Linked DNA regions of Homo sapiens: all the other regions are linked to region 2. Evidence: fine-mapped expression QTL. A gene starts in region 2. Each other region holds a variant in brackets. All regions are shown on one strand. Distances are between the middles of the regions. Region 1 has its middle 110 kb from the start of PLAAT1. Region 2 holds the start of PLAAT1 (phospholipase A and acyltransferase 1). Region 3 overlaps ATP13A4 (ATPase 13A4).

The links. PIP is the estimated chance that this variant, and not a neighbour inherited with it, causes the effect.
Region 1: its variant is fine-mapped to the expression of PLAAT1 in anterior cingulate cortex (GTEx, PIP 0.99).
Region 3: its variant is fine-mapped to the expression of PLAAT1 in whole blood (INTERVAL, PIP above 0.99).

Annotation. Positions count from the first base shown.
Region 1 is chr3:193,128,417-193,139,151 of GRCh38, forward strand. No RefSeq gene overlaps it. Among named protein-coding and RNA genes, the nearest start is that of PLAAT1, 110 kb to the right of the region's middle. The variant C/CCA (reference allele first, on the strand shown) is at 5,931.
Region 2 is chr3:193,235,044-193,245,778 of GRCh38, forward strand. PLAAT1 (phospholipase A and acyltransferase 1) reads left to right here and starts at 6,179. Exons shown (of 4, transcript NM_020386.5): 1 at 6,179-6,490. It overlaps MGC2889 (a long non-coding RNA gene), which reads left to right and starts at 6,736. Exons shown (of 1, transcript NR_026877.1): 1 at 6,736-8,929. LOC105374280 (a long non-coding RNA gene) reads right to left here and starts at 5,980. Exons shown (of 3, transcript XR_924833.3): 1 at 5,852-5,980; 2 at 4,707-4,802; 3 at 1,625-3,491. RefSeq lists a silencer at 6,081-6,330.
Region 3 is chr3:193,398,806-193,409,540 of GRCh38, forward strand. ATP13A4 (ATPase 13A4) reads right to left here. Exons shown (of 30, transcript NM_032279.4): 29 at 8,508-8,588; 30 at 162-4,059. The coding sequence ends at 3,847. Among named protein-coding and RNA genes, the nearest start is that of ATP13A5, 25 kb to the left of the region's middle. The variant C/T (reference allele first, on the strand shown) is at 4,132.

The sequences.
Region 1 (10,735 bases), 110 kb before region 2:
GTAATAGGGGCTATGGGAGAAAAGAATGAGTTGGGACAGGGAGAGGGATAAATATAGCCTTAAGGCTGCTACTCCTTAGGGAAGAGGGGATCTGGCCTGGAATTTGAATATAACATCCAGTGTGGCAAACTTGTGTATAATTGGGACTTGTTTTGTTAACCAAAACATCTAACCTGCAGGTGATATGCTGTGCTCATAACGGGGGTTGGGGTGTTTATTTGGGATTCTAGGGAATAGGACATGTTTGAAGCAGGATCCTAGCAGAGTACTTCCCTTGACCTGCCCTGGCCCCTGTGGATGGTGAGGGCTAAGTAGATTTTTAGGGCTTCAGTCAAGTGGGCTGTGGGTCAGGGCCAGTGCTATTCCCAGTGTGTAAGTGGAGTACAAATGGTATGGAACCTCCCCATTGTCATACGGTCTAGGTAAAGGAGGCAGAGGAGGGGAGAGCTATCACTCTGGATACAGGATGATCCGGGGGAAATGAGTGATAAAGCTTGTGATGGCAAGAAAAACCCAGGTAATATTCTTTTTTTTTTATCATGTGAGTGGGAAGATTCATGCTTCTTCCTTTATTTTTTTAAATTTTACTTTAAGTTCTGGGATACATGTGCAGAACGTGCAGGTTTGTTATATAGGTATACACGTGCCATGGTGGTTTCCTGCACCTATCAACCCGTCATCTAGCTATTAAACCCTGCATGCTTTAGGTATTTGTTCTCTCCCTCCACTTGTTCCCCACCCCACTAGAGGCCCCGTTGTATGAAGTTCCCCTCCCTGTGTCCATGTGTTCTCATTGTTCAACTCCCACTTATGAGTGAGAACATGTGGTGTTTGGTTTTCTGTTGCTGTGTTCCTTTGCTGAGAATGATAAGCCCGGATAATATTCTTACAAGCATCCCCTTATTAAATTTTTTATGTATATGGAATGATTATCTTTTTCTGCAGTTTAAAGTCATAGTAGTTCTAGCAGGTAAGTTATTTTTTCTCTATGCCTCAGTTTCCTTAACACAGCATGATGACATTTCCAGATAATTTCTAAGGTTCCCTGAAATATAGCATTCTAAGAGTCTATATATTAGCAAAACATAATTGCACAAGCATGGGAAAGGTTACAGTGATCATCAGTCCTAACTGTTCACAGGTTTCTCCTATTCAGCTATAATTCATTATTCGCCATTTTAGAGCTTCTTGCTAGTCCTCTTAAAAATCACATAATGCAATACAAATACCCATAATATAAATTTTGTTGGAGAAATATCAAGGACTTTGACTTTCTCCTTCAGGAGAGAAAGCTAAGCGACCAAGAGACCAATGAATCATATTTAATTGCAAAAATAAAAAAAAGAGCGAGATGAATTCTAAGTAGCAAAGGTGATCTCGCCCTCTTCTGGACAAAAGCCACAGAGGTGCTGGGAAGCAGGTTAGGCAAGACAAAGAAGGGAAACCAATTTTAGAGGAAAGATTTTCGAAAATGAGGATGTGGGGGTATTAGCTAAAAATAATGGAAGATAATAAGTACAGGCTGTTCCTTAGCACACAGAAATCAGACAATTAAGGGCCATATCTGTATTCTTTCCCTGATGCCTATGAGGGTCATAAAGCTTGAATGGCAGCTAGTAACATTCTTAGGAGGATAGGGTAATGTCCAAAGCAACTTTTTCTTCAACTGTAATACTTTTGTGCAGGTGGACTCAAGTTAAAGGGAACAATGAGAACAAAAGGAGTCATAAGAGGTGGTAAGTCTGAGAGACCACTGGGTTGTGAAAGCTGTAAGGTCTCAGACTGCATGACATTCACATACCCAACACCTCACAAGAACTCAGTCCATAACACAGTAGATGCTCTGAATGAATGAATGAATGAATGAATGAATGATTAATCTCAAGCAATTTGCCTTGAAGAGGTAGACGGAAGGATGGGCTGCAGTGATATTATGGGTGATGAATGAATGAGCTGGATTTCAGGTTATGTGCTGGAAGGACTATTTCTATCTTAGCCACATGCATGGGTTACCACCCATTGATCAGCAGTGTGGAGTGGGAGGCAAAGGTGGAAAGAGAAGTAACGCAAAGCTTGTTGCTTGATGATTGTGATTGTTCTTCATCCCCTAGTCTTGGGCATTCACTGGCTACTTTCCCAAAACAATCTGTCAAACAAATTAGACTCTGGGAGAAATTCAATAATGCTAAATATTCAATGGTAACTCTAATAAAATATTTGTCTTAAATTTAAGCCAAAAGTCCTTCAGAAATTTAGTATCTCCTTCCAGCTGGAGCCAAACAGTCATAAGACTTCCCATAATAAGTGAGCCCTCTGTCTGCCCGAGGAAATTCACCCATTATACGCATGGGATAGTCACGTGATGCTGTACTGTATTCCTCCTTTGTGAGTTTGTTTCCATTTTTTCCTTTCGGATATGAGGAAGTAAGCCTAGTCTAGGATCCTAAAGACTGGAGTCTTGCTGTTTATTAGTTGTGTATCCTTAGGTAAATCTCCAAGTTTTCTAATTTGTTAAACAAACATAACAGATTATTGTGGGAATTAAATTTTCTAAAAACTCTGCAAAGTCATTCCATAAAAATTGGGGTGTAATTCTAACAAATGACCTAAAAGACCCTTCTGTCATAGCCTGTGCTTATCTCTTCAGTCTCCTCTTGTGTTTCTCTCCCTTTGCTCATTCACTTCCTGTTACACAGGCCTTCTTTCTAGTGCTCAAATATCAACCTCTCTCCCACATCGGGACTGAAATGCTTTCCCCCTAACACCCTCTGCTTTCTCTTTCCCATCTTGCTCTCAGCTCATATAACATCTTTTATTCAAAGAAGGTTTTTCTATTCACCCCACCAAATGTTTCACACTGGTACATTTCATTCCTACCACCAACTGGTCATAGACCACCACATTATCCTGTTTTATTTTCTTGGTACTAATTATCACCATTTGAATTTATTCTAATTTGTTTGCTTACTTGTTCTTTAGTTGTCTCCCTCCAACTAATAATATAAACACGAATACAGCAGAGACCTTATACCACTTGTACCTAAAATAATGTCTGGCAGGTACATTGTAGATGGTGAATAAACATTTGAATTAAAGTAGCAAATCCATGAATTAAAATATTTGAATGACAAGAATTTATAAACTGTGAAGTGCTATACACATGTAAGGTGGTATTTACTTCTGTGGAGAGGTTGCTATAAGTGAAACAACAGGGGGAAGAATGCCAGATTTGAATTTTAAATTGGCTATTTTTCGTAGGACAAGTCATTCCTTTGCTTCTATGTACATTGGTTCTCTCACCTGAAAAGTGAGAAAAAATGATATTTATCTCATAGACTATTTTGATACTGAGATTTAATACAGGCAAAATCACTGTGAACGTTAAAAATTGCTCATGTAAGTTTTAGCCATTCTCCTACATATGATCCTAAGCTTTGGAAATGGGGAAATTCTTAATATCTTCTTTATTTCAAAAGAGCAAGAGTTTTGGGTGACATTGGTGCAAAATTGTGAAGGGAGTTTATTGTACCCAAACTTTCCCCCAAATCATTAAACTTCTGTGGTCCATGGCTTCATTTGCATTAGGTACATACATCTGTATGTCCTAATTAGAATCATTGGCAAGAATCTTCAGGAAGGAGTTTAGCCTTTTGCCCTCAAGAAAGAAGTTAATTCTTTCCAAAACAGCCACCTCATTTTTTATGCTGCAGAAGACAGGTAGCAAAGGCATTAATGTTGCTTAAGGATATCAGACTAAGTAGTCGGATTAACATCAATTTACAAATAAAGCAGGATAAGCCATTTTAAATAAGGTGCATTATATTTTATTTAGCAACAACTCTTTGCCTCTTCTATGTGTGTGTGATGACAACCATTCTAATGCTTTCACAAAGAAGCCTGCCTGAAAAGGAAGAAAAAAAGGATGAGTGTGCCCGTACTTGATTTGAGTGTGTGTGCTGTGCTTCTGTGTTGAAATCCAGATGTGCTTCACAGGCTACACAAATCCATTCCAAATGTTCGGCCTCATCCTTTGACTCTAGGGGAAACTTAGTGCTTGATTGACTCACTACCCTCCAGCACAAGACTTAGAAGCAGGAAGTCTGGTTTAGGTAGTGAGTCTGACATTTATGACCCATGTGGGACCTTAGGCTACCATTTTTATTCCCTTAGCTTTAAATCCCTCTGCTGCAAAATGAAGATAAAATTGACATCTGCCCCATGGGTAGGGATGGGAGGAAATAATGTGGGGGAAAACACTTTGTAAAAGGTGAAGTGCCATGTAAATGCCTCACATTCTAAATCTTGCCCTCTTCCGGCTTGAACCTTCTGCCTCAAGGAATTATCATGCTGCTTCCCTAGGCAGATGGGTTTGCTGCACTCAAGGACCTGAGTGCTCCTAGGGAAGGGAAATACATGGCACAGGTGCAGCTTTCCTTATTCCTGAGCCCCACAGTCAGCATTGCTAATTGATCACTACACTTTTTCCTACCAAGTCTGGACCCAATCTCAAAATCCCTCTCATAACATTCCAGGAGCTACCATCAATTGTTGGAGTAGGCATGGGAGGATAAAGCTGATTGGCCATCTCTGTTAAGCCTCTAAGACCTGTGACCAAAGGATCCCACACTCTCTCCTCCATCGTCCAGATTGAGGACACACGGATCGCAGCACAGTGCCTAGAGATGACATCCAGCAGTGGCAGAACCACTTCACAGTCAACACACATGTACACAGAGCAGAGCTAGCTCAAGCATTCATCTGTTAAATCTGAGTTAATTTCATAGTGGAAAAAAAAGCAAATGTTCAGGGAATGTTGGCAACAGTACAATTTATGATGAATCAAATTGCCTGAAGAGATGTGGAAAAGGGTTTTGGAAAGAACAAAGACTCTGGGACTGAGCAGCGAATGTCAAGTTAGCTATGTAACTGTTGGGTGTGTGTACATCATGTAACTGGATCAATCCCTTAATTGCTCTGTTTTTCTATCAAACAGGATAATTAGAAGACATTTTGATTCTCAGTTGAATCAATTCTTACCTTAGGCTTTGAGAATTGTGTCTTACAGGGAACCTCAGATGTTAATACTGAAATATTTTCTTTCTTAGTTCCTGAAGGAAGGGTTTAGTTTCATCTTGTAAGTGTGCCACAGGTCCTGCCTTGGAAATCCAGATATCAGATAGCAGTCTTAAATGAACACAAGTTGACCTTCACATCTCAAACTTCCTCACATGCAAATAGAGGCCCATTTCTTTTATTCAGTCCTGGTGTAAGTTTTCCAGGCATGAGGTGACCCGATGTATTATTTTATCAACAGCAAAGCAATCTCATTTCATGAGAACTGCACCTGCCCATTACTCAACCTGTATGAAGGAAACCGCTCTGCTTTGTGTCATCAGGGATATGACAAAAGGAAGACTTCTGTAAAACATGTTTTCTTAAGAAGAAGAAAATGTATTTTATATGCAGAAATATAACAAAAATCCCACATCTTCACCAGTCTAATTTGGCAAGAGGTAATTTACAATTTTCATGTTAATAATTTCTTTTAAGTTATAAAAGCTTAAAAGCTCATAATAGATAATGTGAAGAAAAAAAGTGGCAAATATTTTAATTTTTCTGACCCTAAAGATTGTTGTTTTTATTTGCTTTAAAGTGTTGGCTTTAGGGCTTAACTGAAGAAATGCATCTTAAGAAAAATGGATCTTTATTTTGGACAAGGGAGATTATAGCTCCTTTTATTACCTGCTGACCTTTTATGAGCTATCTTTTATTTTACTGTTGAGTAGTTAATAATACCCTTGTAGTTTAGAAAGCACTTTTAAAAAATTTTATGTATCTCATTTGATCCTCTCATGATAGTTTTAGCAATATAAACACCAATTTTCAAATGAAATATGGAGATTCCGGTGGTTTAAGGCACTTGACCAAGG[C/CCA]CATAGCTCGAAAGTGAAAAAAAATAGGGCTGAACCTAGGTAAATGAATTTCTAGAATGATGTTCTTTACTGCCACACACTCTATGACTTAAAACAGGGATTATGTTTTCTGTGAAGCCTAAACTAAAACGGAGGATTTTTACCTAATAGAAATGCCTAGGGCCAGGAGAGTGGGCCAAAAGAAAATCAACATGAGAAATCTGAGAACTAAATATCAGAGAAAACAAATCCATAGGAGCCAAGGATGCCAAGCCTGAGGTCGGGTGAAGGTAATATCAAAACAAAAGCAGCTGGGTATAAATAAGAGGACACCCTAAGCAATTGATTTGCATATCGGCTGTTATTTACAGTGTACCTTGGAAACTTAAAGTTTTGTGATGCTTGAGTAAGTGGATTGGTTCAATGGGCCAGAAGCAAAAATGGCAATGTGTAGTCTTTCCATGTGGATAGGGATACAGTGCCTGACTCTGTCCAGGCTGGACTTCTATTGGTTCTCTGGCTTTGCTGTAATAGGATGAATGACATTTGTAAGAAGCTACACAAGTAAAGGGTTGTCACCAGTGAAGAGTGACAGGAATGACACGTTTTAGTTTGTTGTTGCCATTAATGCAGACTGTCATAACACTTAGATTCTACTTGACATAGAAATGGAAACCGGCCATGTGGGACTGGACGTGTTTAAGAATGAAGGGAGCATGTGTATCACTGGTAGACGACAGAGCCAAGTAGTAAAGTGAGTCATTGCCAAAACACAAAACATAAGGCATGACAGATTCCTGCAGCTGACTCATGAGGAGAGCCAGCCAGAGACCTAACCAATAGAAGATGCCGAAGACTAGGGACCAAGAGTGAGTCTGTTGATCATAATAGTGATTGCTGTAATTTAGTGTATTCTTACTATTAATATGTGTTAGGCATGTTTACAGTGACATAAATATTTTTTCATTAATACTCAAATACTATAAACTGGTTATTTTTAAGGACATTTTTATAGGTAAGAAAACTAGTTCAGAGAGATCAATGAGTTATTTGGGTCAGACAGCTAGCAGGAGGCAAGGCAGGAATGAGCAAGGTGCCTGGTTCTGAAGTCTGTGCACTTGGCCAACATGTTAAACTTTCTTCTCATTACACACAGCAGTTAGACAATAAGTTGAGTTGTCAACTCCCTGGGTACCAGTGACTAGTTAGTTTATATGGTCTTATCAGATTTTATTAATTTTAGAGTGGACTGAGCATCATGGGAGTAGGCAGTTCAATGTTTCAAGCACAGCTCTAAGGAGTAAGCTTTCACAGAGATTTACGGAAGCCATTGCCTATATTTTAATATCCTTTATATTCCTTTCCAGTGCATTTTATTCTATCTACCACAATAATCTACATCTCATGACAAGCAGCTGAGGACACAGAAAAGAGAAAGAGCAAGCCTGTAAATGCAACCTTAAGGGATGGCCAGTTTGAAGATTGCTGTCTTTGGGGGGTCTCATTTTGATCTGTGAATCTTCTTGTGGATGTTTGGCATCATATCCGAAAAAAACATAAATGAATCTTCCTGGTTTTTCTACATTGAAGCCAAGAATATATTGCTTCACTTATGTCCATCAAACCCTAGTATTACAAAAAATGCTAAAGCACTTCTAACTATACCCTCTAAATGGAGACTGTAAAATATTCTGAGACAAAGGGAATTTGAACATTGTTAAGAATGCAGAATTTTATGCTGAAGAACAAAAGGAAGGGAAACATAGGCCAACCCGTTCAAAATCCTCCAAGTTCAGTTTCTAATATAGCTCACTCCATTTCTTTTTGAGTAACTCCAACCTTTCCAATGGAAATGTTATTTGTAATTTAAAAGGATTGTTAGAGCTGAGTCAGTGTTTTAGTATTCGTCAGTGTTTTTGGTTTTAAGCAAGAGAAATTGAATCGATCTGATTTCAGCAGAAAAGGAGCTCATTATACATACAGAGAGAGAGAGAATGGAAGGAGGAATTAAGTCTGATGAGGATGCTGCTGCCATGATGGCCACAGATGACACTGAATACCATCTTCACTGTGGTTACTAGATTCTGGATACAGCCCCTAGACACCCTGCCACTGCTGCCAATAAAATAAATTCTCCCTAAGCCCTGCGTTCTTGCATCACTGGCTCCTGATTCAAATTATCATGTGGGTGAACATGATTGGCTAACCTAGATTGTGTGTTCATATTCTAGCTGCAAAGGAGGCTGGGAAATTTATAATATGCCCTTGTTGGCTTATATAGTCAAAGGCTGGCTCTGCTTCCCTTCAAAATTTATGAGGTAGGAATTCCCCCTGATCATAGGGTTAGAGGAGTTAATATGCTGGTTGGCCAAAAATGTAACATTTTTTTCATATTCCACCTCTTGAGTTTTCCTAATAATATATTTTTTTCAAACTCTGTCACAGCCATGTGTTTTAAAGGCCATTACTTTTTTGTTTATTTATTTCAAGTCTTTAAAAAAAGTTTATGAAGTTCAAAATTATTCTTATACCATTCTTAAAAATCTATTCGAAGACTTTTTCTCTGGGCAGCTAGCATACTCCTAAGGCTGGGTACGTTAGGTTTCCAATCCAATAAGCTTTATTTTAGTTTTTGGGCCAAAAGGACTCATTTATACTTAGTTCAATCAGTCAGAAAAATCCATGCTTGCTAAAAAGGAAGGGAAAATCAAGCAAATGCAATTGACAGGACATCAAGATCTAAACAAATATCTACCACATAGATATCCTTTTATTTTGAATTGCAGTTCTCTGGCAACAAATGGTCCAAATATAAACAATTTAGTAGAAATTCTAGAAAGAAATTGCTTAGAATAGCAGGGACTTCATGCTCTTAAACAAGCCCTAAAAGAATCAGAACATGCCCTTCTTTGTTCAATTCCATGAAATCTGTTTAGAATCAAGCTGATGATCAAATCTCTTCAAAAGAGAACCCTGGGCATATCTATAGGTTGACATGGAAAACTCTTTCTCCTATGGAGTTAAAATGAATATATGCATATGTGTATATGTGTGTAAATGTAATTTTTTTTAGCAGAAATATTCATGTTCATTATTTTTAGATGTTGGCCATGCAGTATTTCTCATATATAAGACCAACAGATGGCTGAGTTAGGATCTAGTTGGTGAAATTTATTGGTCAAAATTTACAGTTGCGGTAGTGGATTGAACACACTCATCTATCTCCACTCTCTCCTGAAACCCAATTTAATAAGAAAAGACAGCAAAGAAAAAAAACTTAAAGTTTAAACCTAAACAGACAAATAGAATTGGAAAGAAGGCAACGATAGCTAAATTTGAGGTATCTAGAAAGCACAAGGATGAGTTTCTGACTTAGAAAGGCAGAAAAAGCTGAAACATAAATCAGAATGGATTGAGTAAATGAACAGGAAGCCGGTCTATTCACACTGCAAAACTCTAAGACGTTTCTATTGTGAGAGATGCTAGGAATTTTTGAAGACAGAGGTACAGATTTGGGCTAGAAAAAGATTGGTTGAAAGTCTTCATAAAGGATATTTAGAAACCAACATATACTTACCCTTCCTTGTTAGAATACTGGAGGTTTTCCTTTCAAAGATGACAGAACATACAGGCTCTAGGCTCAGAGACACCAAGTTTAACAAAGGACAAGTGTGAGCAGGGTACCCTTTAAATAAGAGCATGAAGGGTGAATAGGCACAGCGACTGTGAACATCCGTCCTCTTTCTGGATGATGGAGAAGTGGCTTAGATACGTGTGGAACATGGTAATCAGTATATCATAGTCACTGACGCTGGTAATAGTACTAGAGCAGGGTCCCAGTAGACCTACTGGCTCCCAGCTATACTTGCTATTGCTAGACAGTGATGAAATGGGGGGCCTGGGGCTTCTGTTGTGTGTGTCAATATTTTGAAAACTGCAATGGTCATAGCATTGAATACATGGTGAATAGCAACCCTAGTTATACCTCCAGGAAGATAAAATGGAAAATTGTTGTGGGTTAATGGATTGGCCTAATAGAAAAGAACCCAGATCCTGACATTTGAGGTTCCTAACAAAATGGCAAAATTCCTGCCTGATCACATTACAGTGAAGCCTACCAGGCAATAAATATTCTCTTCATGTTCATCACTTCCAATCTGTATTTTTGATGATGATGATGATAATTATTATTATTATATGAATGGCCAAAAATATCTAGGGATTAAAGAAAAGCCTACATTTGTATTTAAATAACCTATAGCAAAAGGGAAATGAGGAAAGAGAAACAGTTTAAAAAATGAAAGGAGACACTTTAAAAGCTGACTTCATATTCTCAGAGATATTTATTCACTCAAAAAAATTTGTGAAACATGGTGACAAATTCTATTCTAGTATTAGAATTATAACATTTAACAAAATAGACAAATATACTTCCTTATGGAGTTTATATAATGTATACTCCACTGTGCTAATTGTATATACTATAGACAACATACTAGAACCATGTTGCATAGCAATAAGAACAATGAAGAAAATACAGGAAAGGAAGGAAATGGAGAGTGATGGGGCAGATGACAGTGGTTACGGAGAGCTATTTTATACAGTGTACTAGGAAAGGCTGGAGTAACCAACATATAAATGATATTTAAAGCTATGGAAGTAAATAAGACTACATAAGAAGAAAATGTGGGTAGAGAAAAGAAGAGATCTGAGGGCCGAGTCTTGAGTACATCAACATTCAGAGAGTGAAAGAAGCAGAGGAGATGGATGAGAGATTGCATCCAGGAAAAAAAAGGAAGTTCTAAAAAAGGAATACAGAGAGTATA
Region 2 (10,735 bases):
TTATTTTGAAAGACATACGAAATTATTGGAAGATTTTGAGCAGGGGAGCAACATGCTATACATTTTTTTTTTTTGAGATGGGATTAGGCTCCTGTTGCCCAGGCTGGAGTGGAATGGCACAATCTTGGCTCACTGCAACCTCTGCCTCCCGGGTTCAAGCTATTGTCCTGCCTCAGTCTCCCAAGTAGCCGGGATTACAGACGAGTGCCACCATGCCTGGCTAATTTTTGTATTTAGTAGAGACAGGGTTTCACCATGTTGGTTAGGCTGGTCTCGAACTCCTGACCTCAGGTGATCCATCCACCTTGGCCTTCCAAAGTGCTGGGATTACAGGTGTGAGCCACAGTGCCCAGCCCATGCTATAAAATTTTAACAGAACCTTTCTGGCTGCTGGATATAGAAAATGTTAAATGAGAACAAGGAAGAAAACAGATAAGCTAGAAAAATGTTACTAAAAGAAGAGTTTCTGGACACAAGTGGAAGTGATGGAGGTAGGGAGAAAGGCTGGATTCTAGATATATTTTAAAGGTTAAAGCAACAAGTTTTTCTGAGGGATTTGATGCAAAGTATCAATCCAGCAAGGGCCTATCTTCAGACTTCTTAATATATGAGAAAAATAAACCTCTGTTGTTTAAGCCACTATTATTAATGTGGTCTTCTCTTACTTGCAGCTGAAAGTATTCCTAATACAACTGGAAGCAAACTATTATTTCTTCAATGTGCTCTCTTTTTTTTCCCCCAGTCTTATGAGTTAAAACTAAATCACCAGAGTCTTGGATCATTACAAACTCTTGCACGAGGGTTTATCTACATAATTTACTTAATTATTAAACTCCATTAAAAATACATTAGAATAAACAAATATTGAGGCCCAGAGAGCTCAAAAACAAACAAACAAACAAACAACAACAACAAAACAAGGTTGATTTGCTTACTTGGATTTTGCCGGAGAATTGCATGGGAGAAAAGAAGAGAAACCTGGTCCACAAAAAGAAGATAACTTAAAGCACTTCTTTTAGGTGAAAACAATCAGTGTGAACTAATCTCATTGTTTCTGGTGAAAAGTATGGCAAGTCAGTTGCAAGACTGAGAAACTCTGGCATATACTAAATGATTTTTAAAAAGAGACCCCTTTTGAATGCTCTGGATAATAGCAGTGCTGTCCAGTAGAAATATAATGCTAGCCACATATATATTTTAAAATATTTTAGTAAGCATATTAAAACAATTTTTAAAACAGCTGAAATTAGCATTTACTATTCAAATCAATATATTCAAATATTATTTCACGTGAGCCCCTAAGTGTTCAGTAATCACATGTGGCTAATGGCTCTCCTATTGAACAGTCCATCTTTAGAAGACCAAACACAAAAAAAAACTTTAAAGGAAAACTGTGGGAATAAAACATGAAGTACGTTTAAGAACTCAATAATTTTACCTCTGTTTCAACCCAAACACAGACCATTTCCAAGTTATTAAAGTTTAGAATAAGATTTGAGAAAGAATCCAGGACTTGGCAATGGAAGAGAATGTGGGCATAATAGTACTCATTGAGATTGATGTAAGGATTAAACGAGATGAGATGTATGTTTTAATAAAAGAATGCCATATGAATATGCCTTTATGAAATAGCATTACTTCTTTATTTTATTAGAGTATCAGTCTGTGGTTAAATAAACACTTCAGATATTTGTAGGCGATTCTTTCCCCCAAATATCATCATGCTCTTTGCTTTCACAATCATTATACGTTACGAAACACTGATAAGAAACATATTTAAATACCCAGGAATAATCAGTTTGGAAAAAACTGGGGGCATTCTCTCCTAACATCCAAGAAATATCTTTCTTTGCACACATGGAAAATCTACTAGAGAGTTTTTGACTATGGCTACAAATGTGTGGGAAAGGGAAATGCTGATGACTTTTCAAGGCTTTCCTGACTAAAAAATCTGACACTGTAAAAAAAGGACACTGTATTCTGAAAGGTACAAGTACATATAAATAAATAAACATGTTTTTTTTTTCTCAGTAATATCTGAGACTTCTGAATTCCTCTGTAATTACATTTAGCAGGGGAAAAACAACCTCATCCATGCCTGTGCATAGCAGCTCCCAGCAATCTGTCGGCTTTTCACAGCATAGTAACCCACTGATCGCTGTCTTAGCTCTTCAATAAATACCGCAGGCCGTGTGTGTGTGCTTACAGAACTTCACAGGTTTCCATGGATACATGAATTTTAGTGCTAAAGCACATTTACTATCACTTTTCTTGTCACCAAGAATCCTGTAAACACTTGTGCTTTAAGCTTTTGTGCAGAAATTTAGCATTTCGTAGAGGACAAGTCAGAATTACCTTTTTCCAAATGCATTGTATGATTTTCCTGTAGGGCGAAATCCCCAAAATCATTGATATTTGTGGCCTGTTTTTAGTCATGCACTTTTATTTATTAAACCAATAAAAGATAATAAAGGTTTAACTACATTGTCAGTACCACTTTTAAATGACAGAAATGTATACTATTTAAATGTTACAATTAATAAATGAGATAACTTCCTCTGAATTTAAAATGCAAAGAGAGAAATAGGAAATGCAGAAGTAGGAATATTATGTTGATATTTAGCCACTTCCTAAATATGGTGAAATTTAAGAATAATTTTCAAGTATATTTTTGTGTCATACCCATAGCTTAAATTTAATCTTTCTTTTTTTTTTTTTTTTTTTTTTTTTTGAGACGGAGTCCCGCTGTTTAGCCCAGGCCGGATTGCAGTGGCGCAATCTCGGCTCACTGCAAGCTCCGCCTCCCAGGTTCACGCCATTCTCCTGCCTCAGCCTCCCGAGTAGCTGGGACTACAGGCGCCCGCCACCGCGCCCGGCTAATTTTTTGTATTTTTAGTAGAGACGGGGTTTCACCGTGTTAGCCAAGATGGTCTCGATCTCCTGACCTTGTGATCCGCCCGCCTCGGCCTCCCAAAGTGCTGGGATTACAGGCGTGAGCCACCGCGCCCAGCCAATTTAATCTTTCTTATACATACTAAGCTTTTTGGATATTTAAAAGACCTTTTCACAAATCTGTGAAGATGGCAGGCTATGTTACTATTTTTCCTGTTTCGTATATATATAAGCTGAGGCTCAGAGGTTTAACAAACATGCTTCTTATCATACAGCTAGCAAATGGTAGAACCAGGCTTAGAACCCAAGACTCATGACTCATTGCCTTTCCATTGTCTTTTTTTTTCTGAGAAGAATGCAGGCAACTCTTTATATAGAAGACATAGCTATGTTCTTCCTTCCTTGCCACATGCTGATAGATTCCCATGTCTCTGGTGTAGCCTCCATTACATTATTCTTTTCTTCATTCGTCCCTTGACTGCTCCACAGACTTGACTTAGCCTAATTTACCAAGCTTAGTCATTTCAGATGAATATAATCATCAGGAAGCAGCAGTTGCAGAGACATTACCTAGCTTGGATGTGCAGTACGTGAAAAACCTGTAAGCAAACAGATTTTCAGTTGCAATGATATTGACCAGAAATACACAAAGCAGATTGAATTAGAGGGTTAAGTAATTTGTACAGGAAAAAAATCCAGTCTGAGCAGGCAGGTGGCCTGGACATTCAAGTCAAGAAAAAAGCTTTTACTTTTACAGCATAGATTTTAGGGGCTGAGGTTGGAACTATTGGAATGATTGTCTCAACTCTTACTAGCTCACATAAAACGTAGCCAACCATCTCTGCATTATCTTGGCAAATATTTCAGTTATTTGTGCAGCTCTTTTATTTTTGTGGTTTTGAAAACCTATTAAAAAAAAGGTTTTTCTTTTGCTGTCTGATAAAAGAGGGAGTCTGGGTAGGGGAAGAGCTCTTGCCTAAGAGGCCTGACTTCAGTTCTACCCCAGGAGAACTGGAATACAGAGCTCCACATCTCAGGCCTCACACCAACTGCCAGGACTGAGCAGTCACAAGTTTGCTGAGAGGATCAAATGAGACAACAGAATCAAAGCGCTTTGCTAATTGTAAAATATGCACAAAACATATAGGGTTGTTTGAGGCCTCTGTCTAATATCACACAATGCCAATTGGTTTGAGTTTCCATGTGTTAAAAAGCCAATTGTAATTTTTGTTACCTTATAGGGCTTTTTCTGGAATGTGAACTTTATTCACTCAACAACAAACAGGACTAAGTCATCTCCATTATGCTTTTTTCAATATGTTTCAACTCTTACTATAAAATTAGGCAGCAACAGAGAATGCCAGCCACACAGGGCTTCACTTATAATGGCCAAAATAATAGGAACTGTTTATTTAAGTGTAATTTAACATCTGCTCCAATCATAGCCCCAGATTACAACTCTAGATTAAGACAAACTTTGCCTATTACTGCCCAAGGCTAAGTCCTCATTCTTTCTTAATGGAAATTTTAATTTTCCACTGCTCATCCGTAGAGTACCACCGATTGATCAACTCTCTCTCCAATCCATAGAAATGAAGAGAGAACTCAGGGCTCTCCTGAACTACAACGCTTTCTACATTTCTCCTATAAATTCCACGCAGGCATTGAATTGAATTTGTTCTTAACCAAATGCGTTTTATCTATACCTGGCAGGAATCTAGAAGTGAAATTACAAGATTTATTTCATTTTAATTCTATTATGAAGCATTTAATCACAAATACCCTGAAAATGAAAAGATAATTTATCATTTTACCTTGACTGAGCAACTCTCCTCACTTCACATTCATGAATCCATAACGCAGAGAGGAGACTGGATGATTAAGTGTTTGATTAGAGAAAACAGATTAACCTAGCAAACATAATAAATTTGGCTCATAAGCAGGATGGCTTTATAAATGCTCACAATACCTCTCCTGTATAAAATCATGAACCACTTCCTACAGTGATGACTCCATCGAAATAGTTGAGAAACATAAAGCAAATGCATGTTTATGGCTTTCTCTTTGAGACATTAAAAGGGTATTGAAAGGCATATCTGATTCAGCTTATAACTCTGGATATATATTAAGGAACATGTAAGAAAATATTAATGCATAAAAAAAGCTACAACTTCTCAAGTGTTCTAGTTTCCACTTTGTCAATAATTACGTTTTCAATGTCCTTCTGTGGACTGTTTCCAAAGGTGCCAATCCAGACCCAAAGTTTCAGATCACTCAGATTCACCCTTAACCTTCATAACACAACCCAATAGCTTTACGAAAAAAGTTGCATATTTAGGTAGTTGTTATCCCATTATGACAAAATACATAAAATTAGCGAGATATTTTTTAGCCTTCAAATAAGTGGGAAAAAATCCTTTTAGCTGAGATTCCATTTACATCAGAATAAAAATCTAAGTTATGACTAGGTTGAAGCAACGTCCTGTGCAGCGCTCCATAAAGTTCACTTAGTCTTCAAGGGTTCCTTACTTAGCTAGGTTAGTATTCCTGGCCTCTTTTTTTAGCAGTGAGAAAAAGGATACTCTCCCTGCCCCAGCTTTATTTTTAAACTCACAGCCATATCCTGGAGGTCTCTGCTGGCTATTTGGCGCGTGGGGGCGGAGGGGGGCCGGGGGAGGGGGGCGGGGCGGGGTCTGGAGGTCTGTGCTGGCTATCTGGCGTGTGTGTGTGTGTGTGTGTGTGTGTGTGTGGTTGGAGGTCTCTGCTGGCTATCTGGCGTGTGTGTGTGTGTGGTGTGGTGTGTGTAAGCAGTGAGGTTGTTTTAGGGCCAGTCCTTCCTCCGCCACTTTGCTGACTCAAAGACCCAGAGGCTTTCTTGGGGTGCAGGTACCATGATTCCTTGGGCCCTAAGGGAATTTTTGTTAGGCTAGAAGAGTGGGTGTACTCATGATGGGTGTACCCGAACATTCCTGGGCTCAACAAAACCGATTATCTTTATAACCGCGGCGCCTAGCACAGCGCCTGGTGCCCTAAACGTTGGCTGCGGGAACGTCCGAGACGCGGGTGCGGAGCCGGGGGCGGAATAACTGGTTGCGCGGCGCTTTGACCGTAGGCGCTGGAGCGCGTGCGTTGCGTGCGCGCGCGGAGGCGGCTGCGTCGGGGCGCGAGAAGGTGCAGTTCCCCGGCGGGCGGGCGGGCGGGCGGGCGAAGCTGGGCTCGGGGCCAAGCGAGGTCTAGCCGGAGCGACTGTGCCCCGCCTCCTGGGCGGAGCGGGCGGCTCCCCATGGTCAGAGCCTCGTGCCGGCTCGGCAGCGCCCGGACGCCGAGCCCAGCGCGTCGGCCCCCCGGCGTGCGGGCGTCTCAGAGCCGCGGAGGGGCCGCCGGGACCGTTTCAGCGTGGCGGCGCTGGTGCTGGCGTTGGCCCTGGAGGACGGCCCCGAGTGATGGCTGGCGCCTGCCTCCCGGGTGTCTCCCGGGTACAGATGGAGTCGTCCCGCGGCCGCCGGCGGCAAGGTCGGCAGCTGCGAGGCCAAGAGAGACCCCAGGACACACACAGCTGCCTCCCGGTGCGAGAAGAAGACCCCGGCTTGAGAGTGAGGTGTGCTGGGCGGAGTGGGGGAGGACCTCGAGGCGCCCCGGCAACCAACCGTGTTCTAACCAACTGGCAAGTGGGAAAAGTTGACATGACTAGAGAACAACGGAGCTTATCCACCCTCCTCTTTTTCACAGACTGGGGAACTCAGTCCACAGGGCAAGAGACTTTCTTCCCTAGGTTACACAGCTATTAAGTGGCAGAGCTGGGACTAGAAACCCAACCTGTTTAAGGCTTTTTAAGCCTACTGTCCTCACTGAAGTGAATATGAATAATAATACAAGTAATTATTATCGTATTGGATTTTGGAAAGTTGGATGGTGATATTCCTTTGGCATGCGAGACTATTAATATGACTCGTGCTGGAAAAAGTCACTCATGTTTTCTCTGGGCTTGGATTCCTCATTCCTTCATTCAATGAACATTTGCTCCGCAGTTACTTGTGCGAGGCACTCTCACCGGAGACTGAAGGTATAGAGCAAGCTTGTCCAACCCGTGGCTCACTAACCGCGTGCGGCCCAGGACAGCTTTGAATGCCGCCCAACACAAATTTGTAAATGTTCTTAAAACATTATGAGAGGTTTTTTTTTTGCGCTTTTTTTTTTTTTCTCATCAGCTATCATTAGAGTTAGTGTATTTTATGTGTGGCCCAAGACAGTTCTCCCAGTGTGGCTCAGGGAAGCCAAAAGATCGGACGCATGGTATAGAGAAAAACAAGAAGCATCCCTCCATAGCGTATGCCCCACAAGAGACAATTTCCCAGAGACCAGTAGCTGAGGCAGGTGTAGGAAGTGAATGGGCCATTAGATGGATGCCTGTGGAAGCTAAAGAAGGCGGATCGGAGGAAGACAATCCGACCTGGGGAGTGGAGGAGAGAGGGGGAGAAGGTGGCATCGACTTGGATTTTTTAAGATTGAGTCATTTGGGGCACTTGGAAATGGGCATTCTGGGTAGAAGGTTCAGTATTAACAAAAACAAAACAATACTCTTGAGTGGGAAGAATAATGGATAGTTTGATTTGCCTAGAATGTAGAGATTAATAAGGATGCCAGGATTCTAGGGCGGGGGACCAAGATGGGGAGTCAGTGGTGGGAAGCCCTGGAAGATTCCAAGCAAGGCATGACAGTGCTGTGGCAGCGGATAGTTAATTTGGCCAAGGAGTGGAACCCTCCTTTGTAGCGTGAGAGTGTTGGACCAAGGATCTTTGCAGCACTGAGAGTCTATGAATTAGCCAATCTGGGAATACAGGGCTTCATGGAAACATCACAGTGTAGGAGGATTATGGATGGAAAGTGCAGCTGGAATGGGAAAAGGTCGAAACCTAATTAGAAGCCTTGGGCCAGGGGTAGCCTGTGATCACCTGCGATTGTGTTTCAGACTTCCAGTAACATTCTTGGGAGTAGTTGTTAAAAAAGTGCTCTTCGTGTTTCTGTAACTTGGGTGGCCTCTTAGGCATGAGCAGACGTTCAGCCTGTCCCTATCGGCAGGGAACATTTATTTATTTTGATGCATCCCCAGGGACCAACAGAGAGCTATAAAGACAGCAGCCTGTTTTGCCAGTTGGCCAGTTGAAATGGGAAATTTCTTATACAAAGATTACAGACTTAACCTTCATGCCACTCTTTATTATAAACTGTTCATACAGTTCTTTGCAGATGGACTCAAAATGAAGCATTTTTTTACCTTAAAGATTGTAGTAGAGGATGTTATAAATGTGTCTTTAATTGGTTCTGTGTTTTCTCATACTTATGAAGCACTGCATTACACAATTTGTCTGAATGAAATTGGTAGATGTGGTCCATGTAAAACTTACCCAATCAGACAGGTTACAGATATTTGCCTAAAATCTGAGCCTGGGCACCTTAGAGATATTCTAACCTCACCCGGAAACTCCGCAACTGGAAAGGTGCAGGGATTCTGGAGCGAGGTTCCACTTCACATTATCTTCTGGTTCTGCATATGAATATTTAAAAACTTCCTGTGGTGTTATATGAAATATGTATTTGCATGCTTTTGCAGCTGCTCCATCTAATAGTATTTGAGAAGGGGAAAAAATGAAATGTTGCTTAGTAGAAATTCCTTTGGTTAATGATGTTAATCAATGGTATAAAAAAGGAGCATGAACTCTGGAATAAGAAGGGACACCTGAAATTGAATTCCAGTTGTGTCGCTTACTACCTGTGCGACTTTAGGTCTGGCACTTAACTCATCTGAGTCTCAGTTTCCTCATCTGTAAAATGGTCACCACAATAATCAGCTCGCAGTCTAACAGAACAACCTGTCACCACTAGAATCCCACTTGTTGGCCTTTTATAGCCACACCTACTTCCCTCCCACTGCCTCCTCCACTTCCTTAACTCATAGCAACCACTGTGTGTTCACTATCTTTTTAAATAATTGTATCATTTCAAGAATGTTATAAAAATGGAATGATATAGTGTGTGACCCTTTGGCATTGTGTGTTTTTATTTTTTCCACTAAGTATAATTCTCTAGAGGTACATTCAGGTTGTCGCATATGTCAATAGTTTTTTCCTTTATTCCTAAGTAGTATTCCATGGTAGGCCTGCACACAGTTTTTTATTTTTTAATTTTTTTAACCACCCTTTGAAGGTCATCTTGGTTGTTTCCACTTTTGGGATATGATGAATAAAGCTGCTATAAGCTTTTGTGTGCAGGTTTTTGGGTGGCTATAAATCTTCATTGTCTTTATTCTCAGGGGTAAATGCCTAGAAGTACAGTTGCTGGATTATATAGTAGTTACAAGCTAAACTTTTAAGGAAGTTGCCAGACTGCTTCCAGAGTAGCTACACATTCCCACCAGCAGTGAATGAGTGATCCAGTTAATGACAATGATGACTCTGCATCATTGTCAACATTTGATGTTGTCACTGTTTTTTATTTTAGCTATTCTGTTAGATGTATAATGATATCTCATTTTGTTTTTTTTTTTTAAATTGACAATGATTTATATTTATGGGGTACAACGTGATGTTTTAATCTATCCATACATTATAGAAATAATCAAACTAATGTATTAGTTCATTTTCTGTTATAACAGATTTATAACAGAATGCCAAAAACTAAGTAATTTATAAAGAAAATTAATGTATTTCTTATAGTTATGGAGGCTGAGAAATCCAAGGTCAAGGGACCACTTCTTGTGAGAGCCTTCTTGTTGGTGGAGACTCTGCAGAGTCCCAAGGTGGTACAGAGTATCACATGGTAAGGGGGCTGAGTATGCTACCTTGCTAGCTTAGGTCTCTCTTCCTGTGATAAAGCCACTAGTTCCCTTCCCATGATAATCCTTTAATCCATGAACTCCTTAATCCAGTAATCCATGAATAGATTAATCCATTCATGAGGACAGAGCTCTCCTGATCCAACCACCTCTTCAAGGCCTGCCCCACTTCTCAATACTACCACATTAGACATTCAGTTTCAACATGCATTTTGGAGGAGACAAACATTCAAACCATAGCACATATACATCATCTCACCAATTTATTATTTTTTGTGGTGGTGAGAATGTTAAAAATCTGTTTTAACAGTCTTGAAATATGCAGTACATTATTATGTGTGGTCAACATGCAGTGCAATAAATCACTAAAACCTACTTCTTCAGTCTAACTGAAACTTTTTACCCTTTGATCCACTTCTTCCCTTTCCTCATTTCTCTCTCTTCCCTTTAGCCTCTGGTAATGACCTCTGTACTCTATTTCTATGAGGTCAGCGTTTTTAGATTTCACACGTGAGATCATACTGTATTTCTCTTACGTTTCTGGCTTATTTCACTTAGCACAGTGTTCCTCAGTTCCATCCATGTTGTCACTAATGACGAAATTTCCTTTTTTAAAAGGCTGTATAGTTATTTCAATGTGTATATGTACCACATTTTTATCCGTTTATCCATTAATAGACACTTAGGTTGCTTCTGTATCTTGGCTATTATGAACAATGCTAAAATGAACATGAGGGTGCAGATATCTCTTCAACGTAATGGCTTCAGTTCATTTGGTTATATACCCAGAAGGATGATTTCTGGATCATATGGTAATTCTACTTTTAGTTTTTTAGGAAACTTCCATACTATTTTCCAAAATGGCTAAACCAATTTGCATTCCCACCAACGATATACAAGGGTTTCCTTTTCTCCACATCCTCACCAACACTTCTTATCATTTTTGGTAACAGCCCTTCTAACAAGCATGAGGAGATACCACATTGTGGCTTTAATTTGCATTTCCCTGAT
Region 3 (10,735 bases), 160 kb after region 2:
TATTTTGTAAACTCTAATGCCCTGTGTATAAAGCAGAGAATAATAGCATCTGTGGTGTTAGAAAATGCCTGGAACTTTGTAAAGATGTTGTTTGATTCAACATTACTGGAGTAAACCACACCATTAGACAGAATGAAAGACTCCACCGCAGAGAGAGAGACTGATTTTTATAACAACTGAATTTATTATAGCATAAACTAAATACAAAGCTCTGAATAAATAATCGTTTTTTTCAGTCATCACATCTGCAGGTGTGTATGTGAACATTTCCATAAGCACATAAGGATACAGATGTCACAGACATATTTAGTGAGGGAAGCCCAGAGTCACGGTTCTCTGTGGGTAAGAGCTAGATGCCTTGAGATGAACATACAGGGCACCGTCTCAAATGATTTGGACTATGTGACTGTGTTCGTTTCTCCTTCAGACTCTGCTCAAGAAAGTGTATTGATAACAGGTTGCTCCGCCCTCAAGTTTAGGGCACTCTCCCACGCTCTTTCATGCAAAGTTTTTTAACACCTCTCTTTAAGAAAATTCACAAATCAGAAGTATTACCCCAGCTTCAATCTGACAATCAGGACCCCTACTCTGCCCCTCTTTCCTAGGATCTTATCTCCATTAGGGGTCCCCTTTCAAGGTACAGGGCAATTGAGTCTATATGTCCACACAATCGGATCTGACAAGGCTGGGAGCCCTCCCTCCAGAGCCCATCCTCCCATGAGTGTCTGTCTGGTATTCTGTGTGGGTAGTAGTAGAAAATAGTTCACATCTGGTGGCTCATGTCTGTAATCCCGGCACTTTGGGAGGCCGAGGCGGGCGGATCACGAGGTCAGGAGATTGAAACCACCCTGGCTAACATGATGAAACCCCATCTCTACTAAAAATACAAAAAATTAGCCGGGCATGGTGGCAGACCTGTAGTCCCAGCTACTTGGGAGGCTGAGGCAGGAGAATGGTGTGAATCCGGGAGGCGGAGCTGGCAGTGAGCCGAGATTGTGCCACTGCACTCTAGCCTGGGCAACAGAGTGAGACTCCATCTCAAAAAAAAAAAAAAAAAAAAAAGGTTCACATCACAGCATAAGACTGAGACACTGGGTGTATCAAGCTTGAAAGAGATCTTGCAGGTAATTGAGTTTCATCTGATACTTGACTTCCTTCTCTACTTGGCCCTTGAATAGCCACTTGTTCCTCCAATGTCCTAGAGTACATTCCACTGCTATCAGTGCTGGCTGTTAGGACAGTGGTTAGGGCAGATGGCCTGAAGCCATCCCCACTGTGATCTTTACCCATTTGTCCTGATTTTGCCTTCTCATGCCACCTGGCACAAGTAGGATCCTTCTTTCTCAGGAAAACCCTTCACAGTCCCCTGACTGTTTTCTTTCCAGGCTGGGCACTCCCTGTTCCTTCAATTACTGCTTCTAAGATGTAGTTAATCCCAGGAATACAGTCTTCAAAATGAGTCTCTTTTCCCAAAGATTTTATGGCTGCTTGACTAGTGGAGGACTAGATTCTTTTCTTCCTGTTCCCTGCCAGCCTTTGCTAGTGATAGAATCACTTAGGATCAAGGCAAGAGCAACTCAAAGTCTCAGAAAGACAGACAATCATTTTTTTGTTTTGTTTTGTTTTGTTTTTAATACACCTCTAGCCCAGGCCTGGCAGGATGCCTGGCATTCATTTGAACAGAGGGCCTGGTATTAGCAAAGGGTTGCCCATTCTTTGCTTGACTGTGAGATCACACTAAGCAACCTGCCCTGCTGGAACTCTGGAATTTGGAAGTATTTGGCAGCAATATAAGGTTTGCTCAGAAGATCTGTATTTGAGGCCTAGATCTGCTCTTGCCATTACTGAATCTCAGCTTTCTCATCTGTATGGTGGAGATGATAAGCCCTTCCTTGTTCAGTCATGGGACAATTGGTACCATTCAGGTGAGTTAGTGGAGGTGAATGCACTTAGCAAAGGGCACATTTAAGTATGAACTGTGCAGGCTGATCTTGCTCATGACTAGGTCACAGACCATCTCTAGCTTGCCCCTGCCTACAACCCTCTACTTTTGGAAAATGAGAAACACTTTTAGAGAAGGACATTCAGAACTGCCATATCATTGCTGAGGCTGGCTTTGCAAAAGGAAACATTTCTTTCTGTACCAAAAAAGACAGTGATTCTGCAGTCTTGAAACACTAAAATATCTTCACGCCCTATTTTAAAACCAGAAGTAACAGGGTACCCTCATGGCTGGGAGACACCATGTTCCTAGAATCAGCTGCAATCATAGAGCCATCAGCCATGCTCAAGAGCTCAGTTAGGGGGAAGGAATGCTTGCAAATGCTATTGATAAGTTCCAAAGCCAGCCTGGGCCAGGACACTTATCCCCTGATCAGAACATTCACCTAGGATTTGATGCTCATAATACAAATTTTGCTTTTGCCTTAAAATATTATATGTAGGTGTGCTCCTAGAGTTCAGTGTTGTCTCCTGAGGTAACAGAAACCTGAGTCTTCCTTGTGCTGAACAAATCAAATATAACCAAATTGTAATAGTGACAAAATAAGGACAATTTTAGTTTTCTGGAAACTCAAGCCACAAACTTTAAAAAAAAAATGTACTAGTTGTGTAAGAACTCCCATCAATAGTGCCATATAATGCTGTAGCATGAGACTAATGTTTCTCAAAAATAATAAAGCAGAGGAGTGAAAATTTCTGGAGTTGGCCATGTGACATGAGAGATTCCTAAAACATAGGATAAGTTACTGGGGTTAGGAAAAGTGGGCTGTAGTGGACAGCACTCGTGCTTTCTGATCTGTTATTTTCCTCTCCTTCCCAGGACTACGTTCCAGACCAACTCTATCATTTGTGGGGCCTGGTACAAAATGAAAATATGGGGACCCCTGTTCAAAAATTAAGAATTTTAAGATGGAAACAGCAGAGTGTTAAAGCCAAGTGTGGGGACCTTCTAAGCATGGGGCCCTGTGTAGTGACAGCTCATAAGCCCATGAAGCATCCCTAAACACAGGAGACTGCACTTTCCAGCTCCCTGGCCAAATCCTTGACTAATGAGATATGAGTAGGGAAAGCAATGTGTGCCACTTTTGGGGTGAGGCAGTGAAGAGCCCACACGTGATCTCCAGTCTATTCCTTCCCCCATCACAGTCAACACACAGTCCTTGCATCGAGCTGATGGAGCCATCAGGTTGAAGCAGTCACTGCTGTAAGAATGGCAGTTCCAGAGTGTCACCTGGATCACGAAAGAAGCACTTGTGTGTTAAGGCACTGATATCTGAGAGTTGTTTTTTATTGCAGCATAGGCTAAGCTTATCCTTAACAATATGTTGGGTAAGGCCAGAAACAGAAGAAAAAGCCTCAAATCTGAAAAGTACTACAGAGAAAAGGAACCCAGACAGTAAAGATTGGTGTAATGTTTCCCACGCATTAGTTTTTCCATCGATGAAGTAAAAATTCAAAAATTACAACTCCGTGAGTATACACAGTACTACTTCCCCTCAACTCATTTTTATAAAAAGGAAAGTATTGTCCTGTCCTAAGAGGAAAGATCACATATTTTTCCCCTTTAGCCTGCTTGTCTCTTGGCCCATAGAAATTCTTGGCCCATTCTTGCCTTCACTGAATGCCTCTAATACCTTCAGAAGCCAAGAGGAAAGCACTCTTCTGGGTCAATGTTCTTCTCTGTAGACAGTATTTTATCAAACAGACTTTAGTTTGTCACCATGATTTGATAGGTAGCCCCAAAACTCCAGCTGATGTTACAAGAGTCTCATTTCTTAAAATCAATGAAACTGGTCCCTTTTGTCATTGTTTCTCTGTAATATCAACTTGGATATCACATGTCCTTCAGAGTTGTTCTTCATTGCTCTCAAATACTGGATTGCTGTAAGACACTCCTCTGCCACACTCCGGCATGTCAGAGTGGGAGGTTTGGTTTAGCGGGGGCCAACTAGGGTCATTTGCCAAGTCCCTCTGCCATATCCGATACTGGCTTTTTGACTGATAGCCGAAACATCTTTTAATCATCATCCACAGGGCTCGATTTTCAATAACAGCCTCCTGCAAAATAAAATAATTACTTTTTACAAGCAAGGGTTGAGTGTTTTGAGGCTACAGCCCTCCACAGGCCAT[C/T]ATAAGTCACTACTGCAATGGTTGCTTAGATCCAGCTTGACAAAGAGCTTGACCACTGGACCAATCTAAGGTGGTTTCATTGGACAGGTATTGGTTTCTCAAACGTTTCTACTTAAGTAACTCCTGTGGGAGAAGTAAGAGGTACAACATTTCAAGACTCTGGGAACATAACTTGAAATGGCTTGCCTCAAAAATGAAGTTTCTTTTGAATCTCACATCTAAATTGAATTTAAAATCATTCAAATTCTATGTTTCACTCTATAGCACATCTATATTTTGTTTAATATAAAATGACATTAAAATTACTACTAAATACTAAACACAATTGACCCTATATAAAGATGTGGCCCATGTATGACATGTTTTTGATATATCCTGACATATCACTGCATATTTAATTTCACACGGGCCAGTCTTGGAGTTGAACAGATCTGGATTTAGGTCCCAGTTCTGACACCTATTATGGGCAAATTAGTTACTCTATCCATGTCTCCGTGATTAGAATAATCCCTTCCTTATGTTTGTTGTAAGGCTTATATAACTCCCTTTACAATGCAGGGCAGGGCAGGGCATAGCTCTCTCCCTTTGCCTACCCTTTGGAACTACTCATTTAACAAATGGCTATGCACTGTGGTCCTGTTCACACATGCCTCTAACCTTCACCTTCACTGAAATACAGTATTAAGATTACAAAAGACATGTCTCTTTGAAAACATTTTGCAATGCCATTTTATTTCATGAGTTAGAGTGAGCCTTGAATAGAGCCCAAGTTATAACTTATAATTCATGAGAGGTTATCATATTAATTTTCCACTTTTATCATGTTTGCTCACAAAGATTGACCATCTTAGAGGTTATTGTGAAAGAAACAAAGAAAAAATATGGGACGTGAAACTGTCCCACAGAATTAGAACTGATTTTCATGTCTATCTTTGCTAATTTGAAAGAGTTAATTCTGTGAGATTCTATAAGGAACTTTGCCAGATATAGTAGTTTTCCTAAAATCTACCCATTTTTGCCATTTAGGTTCCACTGCCCATGAAAGGATAGAGAACAGCCAGTCTGCATTATTCCTGTGATAACTGACCATCTGCTGGCTGCGGGGCTGTTAAAGATCCATATAACCGTCTCAGCCTCTTGGAAACTTAGCCAGATGAGTTATTCTACTTTCCTGCAGCAAGGTTTTTTTGTCCTCCTTAATTGACGTGAAAACAGTAGTTCTTCTTAGAGCTGGGATAAGGCAGGAGCATCGAGTAAAGGTTTTAAAATCTTACTTACTTCAAGGAAACCTTAGCAAACCTTAAAACAAAATAGATGAAACCACACACACACACACACAGAGAGAGAAACTTTGGTGCTCTCCATCTCTACATCTTGCCTTCAGTGTTTTTTAGTTCTGGACTCTGATGACCTGTATCACCTTGCTGCTCTGGAAGAGGAAACTACAGAGAGGTGATCTGTCCTGTTACCGCACATTATAAATACAAGGCAGAACTAGTGACATGATCTGAATTTGTATTTCCATCCAAATCTCGTGCTGAAATATAATCCCCAATGTTGCAGGAAGGGCTGGATGGGAGGTGACTGGGTCGTAGGGATGGATTTCCTTCTTGCTGTTTTCGTGATAGTGAGTGAGTTCTCATGAGATCTGATTGTTTAAAAGTGTGTAGCACCTTCCCCTTCTCTCTCTTCCTCCTGCTCGGGCCATGTAAGACCTGCCTGCTTCCCCTTTGCTTTCCGCCATGATTGAAAGTTTCTTGGGGCCTCTCCAGCCATGCTTCTGGTACAGCCTGCAAAACCATGAGCCAATTAAACCTCTTTCCTTCATAAATTACCCCGTTTCAGGTATTTGTTCACAGCAGTGGGAGAATGGACTAAAATACAACTAGAAAAAAACGAAAGCCTTAGTGAGACATTTCTTTAAAAAAATTTCGCCACATGAGCGCTTCTGACTGGCTACTCAAATAACTCATACATACAAGCATACCTATATAAACACATCAATAATTGTTTTAAAGGTGGGGGCAATTAAAGCTATCCACACTACCTCTCATGCCTCTCAGCTGGAGGTTCGATCATGAGCACTGGCATAGTAAGGATAAGGTCCTGCTCAAACCTGTTTGTTTTCAGGGCTGATCAGAGATTAGATAAGTGGAATAATTTGCCCAAAGTCAGAGAGCAAGAAAGTGGTGGAGCCAGGATTCGAACCCACCCACGTAGATTACCCCGAGCTTGTGCTCTTAACTGCAAATATGCTGAAAAAGGAAGAACTTCCTGCTAGAGGATTAAGGAAGACTTTGATACTTCATTACCATACAGCCCATTCCCTCCCAACTCTTCCCTTCCCACCTAAAAGGGAAAAATAATGATAATAAGTGGTCTAAGCCAAATTGTCTAACTTTTGACATGGATCCACTTTCCCAGAATCTTTTTCTACTCATGATGACCATGAGACACAAGTGTAATCGATAAAGCATAAAAGGAAGTCTGCTGGTGAGCTTCAGGAAAAGTTTGTTTCTCAAGAAAAGGTTCAGACTTGCTGGAAATAGGCTTGCTGTGGCCTCTCCTTCCATTTTCTTCCTGCACTGAAAACAGATGTAAAGTCCGGCTCTGTGGAAGCTATCTGGACACCATAATCACGTGCACAAACATGAAAGACCACATCGAAGGAGAGTAGAAGAGAAAGGTGAAAGAGTGTGGATTCCCAGTGACACTACTGAGTTACTAAGCCAGTCCTGAAGCCACCTACCTTCAGTCTTCTTCTTGAGTCAATAAACATCTTTATTATTTAAGCCACTGTTAGTTAAGTCGTTACTTGCCTACCTGATCCAGAGATCAGGAAAGATACATGAAGAGGATACTACTACAGCTGTGCTGTAGAGGATGGAATAGCACTTTAATATGCGGAAATGGAGGAAACATACACCACACAGAGAGAATCCTGTGATCACGAACAGGGATAAGATGTATACACTAGATCCCCCTCTAAAGGGCAAAGACCATCATTCTGCCACTGGGTCTGAGGACACCCGTGATAATGCTCTTTTATTAATCTGGTTGCTTTAGAGACCATATGGTTTAGCATATTGCTTCTCAAAGTGTGATCCCTGAACTAGTCTCATCAGAATCCCCTGACAACCTGTTAGAAATGCTAACTTTTGCACTTCTTCCAGGCCTACTGAATCAGACACACTGCGGGTAGGGCTGGGCAACGTGTGTTTTAATAAGCCTCCCAGGTGATTCTGATGCCCACTCAAGTTTGAGAAGCTCTTGTTTAGCATATAGAGAGAAGTTCCAGTACTGAAATTCTGTGTCCTGTTCTGCCACCAGCTCCTGTGCAGCCTTCACTCTGCATAGGAGTAAGCAGGGAGAGCTCATTGAGGTCCTGCCTACACAATACTGCAGGGAAGTCAGGCTGTAGGTTCTCACAGCTCACCATGAACACTCCATTTGCAGGAATAATTCTAGTTCTGTATCCCAGAGCAGAAATAGAGACAGATGGAATTCTGCATCTCACCTCTCCTTTGTTCATAAATGCCTTTTCAGGGCACCCCTGCCTACCAACAGGCTTTGAAGAATGGATATTGTGTCTGGTAGTACTGAGCAGGGAGAGCGTGAATCACGTGGAGAAAGAAAGCAGGAGCACAAGCTCATTTCACTGAGGAAATGGAGCACAGGGGAGCTGAAGAATAAAAGCTAGAAAATGGAGCAAATGGAAGCTGGAGAATGAAAGCCGGAAAAGCTCACTATGAATGTTATTTCCCATCCGCAAGGCAAAAATGATATGAGTTAAGTGAAAGAAGCCACACACAAAAGGCCACATATTGTATGGTTTCACTTATATGAAATGTCCAGAAAAGTCAAATCCACACAGTCAGAAAGTAGAATAGTGATTACCAAGGCCCAGGAGAAGGCAGAAGGGGCAATGAAGAGCAACGGCTAGTAGGTACAGGATTTCTTTAGCGATGATGAAAATGTCCTGCAATTAAGTAGCGTTAATGGCTGTACAACTCAGTGAGTGCACTAAACACTACTGAATTGTGGACTTTAAAAGGGTGAATGTTATGGTGCGTGAATCATATCTCAATTTTAAAAAGTAAATTGTGTTGGGTCTTTATTTGGAAATTGTAGAAATGAACAGGACCTTAGAGACCATAATTCCATTCTCCCCCGCCCTACTTGACAGATGAGAAAACTAACGTCCTGCTTGGGACTCATCAGAGGAAGGCACCATTGCTTATACTGTGAAGGAAGGGAGCCCCTGCACTGCTGAGTCCATGTCAGCTAAAGTTGTTGTTTTCAGAGTCCCAAAGAAGTCCCCCTACACACATGCGTGCACACACACAAGATCAGCAGCCCAAGATCAGCACACTTACCTCGGCCACAAGGGACACAATGAAATTCAAGCTGAGCATGATGACAATGGAGGCCCTCCACAGGACGGGAGTGCAGAGCAGCTGGCGGGAGATGATGAAGCACAGTTAGTCTGAAGACACGCAGATGCTGGAAACATGCTCACATGTTCACAGCATATATTTTCCTAGGTTATAAATCTCATATGTAATATATATGTGTGTATATTACATATATCTTATATATATAAAAAATTTCTATGCTTGTATGCACAGAAAAAGTACGGAAAGGTTATACTTATGATCCTAATGATTTGGGGGGGTTATGAGTGTTGCTTTTCTTCTTTTATCTTTTTTTCTTCTTGTGATGTGTGTGTGTTTCTCTATGATTTCTAAATTTCCTAAAATAACTTTGGTCACTTTGCAATTAGAAAAGAAGAGGAAAATCACTCTTTGTTTGCTTGCTTTGTTTTGTTTTCAAAAGGGAGGCAGGAATGTGGCTTTATCCCCAGGAGGCCTGATGGTACCCATGTCAAACCTTCACAACTGGGCAGCATTGCCCTCTTCTCCCTGGTGTCCCGTCTCTCCCCAGCCAAGCCCTGCCTTTAGCACTGGCTCAGGGCTTCACCCTCAGGACTGTGCATCCAGCTGCACAGTGTGCCCTCACAAGGGCCCTTGCCAAAGGAGCAAATGGAGCTGAAATCAAGCTTGTCATGACCTGTCCCTTTGCCCATTTTCTCTGTGTCTTCCCCAACCCCTTCCAGGCACATGCCTGATATATATGTATGGTGAATGAGTGAATCAATGGGTGAATTAATGAATGAAAAAGTGCCAAGGGCATCCCATTGTATCTGGCACTGACTTATGCATTGCCTCATACGTTAGTGGGAGTAAAAACTGAAACAGTTCCATAGAGGACAGTGTTCTCAAAGTTAAAAATTCAAATCCACTTCTAGGAATTTATCTGAGAAATATACTTGTACATGGCTAAAATGATATATGCACAATATTTTTATTGCAGCTTTGTTTGTAATAAAAACTTGGAAACATCTTAAATGTCTATCAATATGGGACTACATATAAAGCATGGTATACATATGACATATACATAATATGCATTTACATAAAATATTATATTAGCATTAAAAAGAATGAGGAAAATGTATGTACTGATATGGAACAATTAATGCTGTTATATGAAAGAAGCAAGGTGCAGGACAATGTATGTGTTGTAGCAGCCATGAAAATTTTCCACTCAGATCTTCTGCTGCTGGGAGGATAAATGGTGGATACCCCAACTGTTATGCTCAGAATCCACCACCACATCCACTGTAAAGCATATCTAAAGTCATAAGCTGCACATAGCCAAGAAATGAGGACACCACGGATTCTCATCAGACTCATTCCTACGAGACGTAGAAACTCCTGATGGGCAACTTTGGCCTGACTTTCTTAGAAGTGTACTGCAGTCTGAGATGCTACACATCTAGCCCTCCTTCTTCCCTCCCTTCGTTTTAGAGGATAAACCCACATCACAGTGTGATGCCTCTCCCCACTTCCTCTGGCTTTCTATTCCCTTACCCCTACCCCGAGAATTTCCTCCAGCAAATCTCTTGCATAACTAAACTCAACTTGTCATCTACATCTCAGAAGACCTGAACAAATATAATAGTTTTCTACTGTTTATGTAAAAATGTGGAAGAAGAATATACAAAATATGTCCCAAAGTATGTAAAATAAACTAGTGTCATTGGTTACCTCCAGGGAGAGGAACTGGTAACGGGGAATCTAAGATGGGATGGGGATTGTCACTATATGGCTTTTTAAACATTTGAATTGTGAACCAAATGAATGTGTTCCCCATTAAAATAATTTATAAATTTTTAAGTAAGCAGTTTCTAGGTTGCAAAACAACATGATTCCATCCTTTTAAAAAAAACTAAAAATTAATCAACACATTTATAGTATATGAATTGTAAAAGAAGGAAGAATATAGTGAATAATGTTATAATTTTCCTTGCCCGCACATTCTACATTTTCTAAAAAGAACACATATTTTTATGTAATAATAAGAAAAATAATTGTTTTAAAAGTGAACAATAATTCTTTGCAGAATCCTTTGCAGTCATGCTGGCAATGACCCTACCCAGGTTCTCTCCAAATTAAATATGTTCCCTATTTTGTTATACCAGAGGACCCAGCCTTTCTGTAAGAATCTTCTTCTATTAAAAAGTGACATTCAACTCACCACA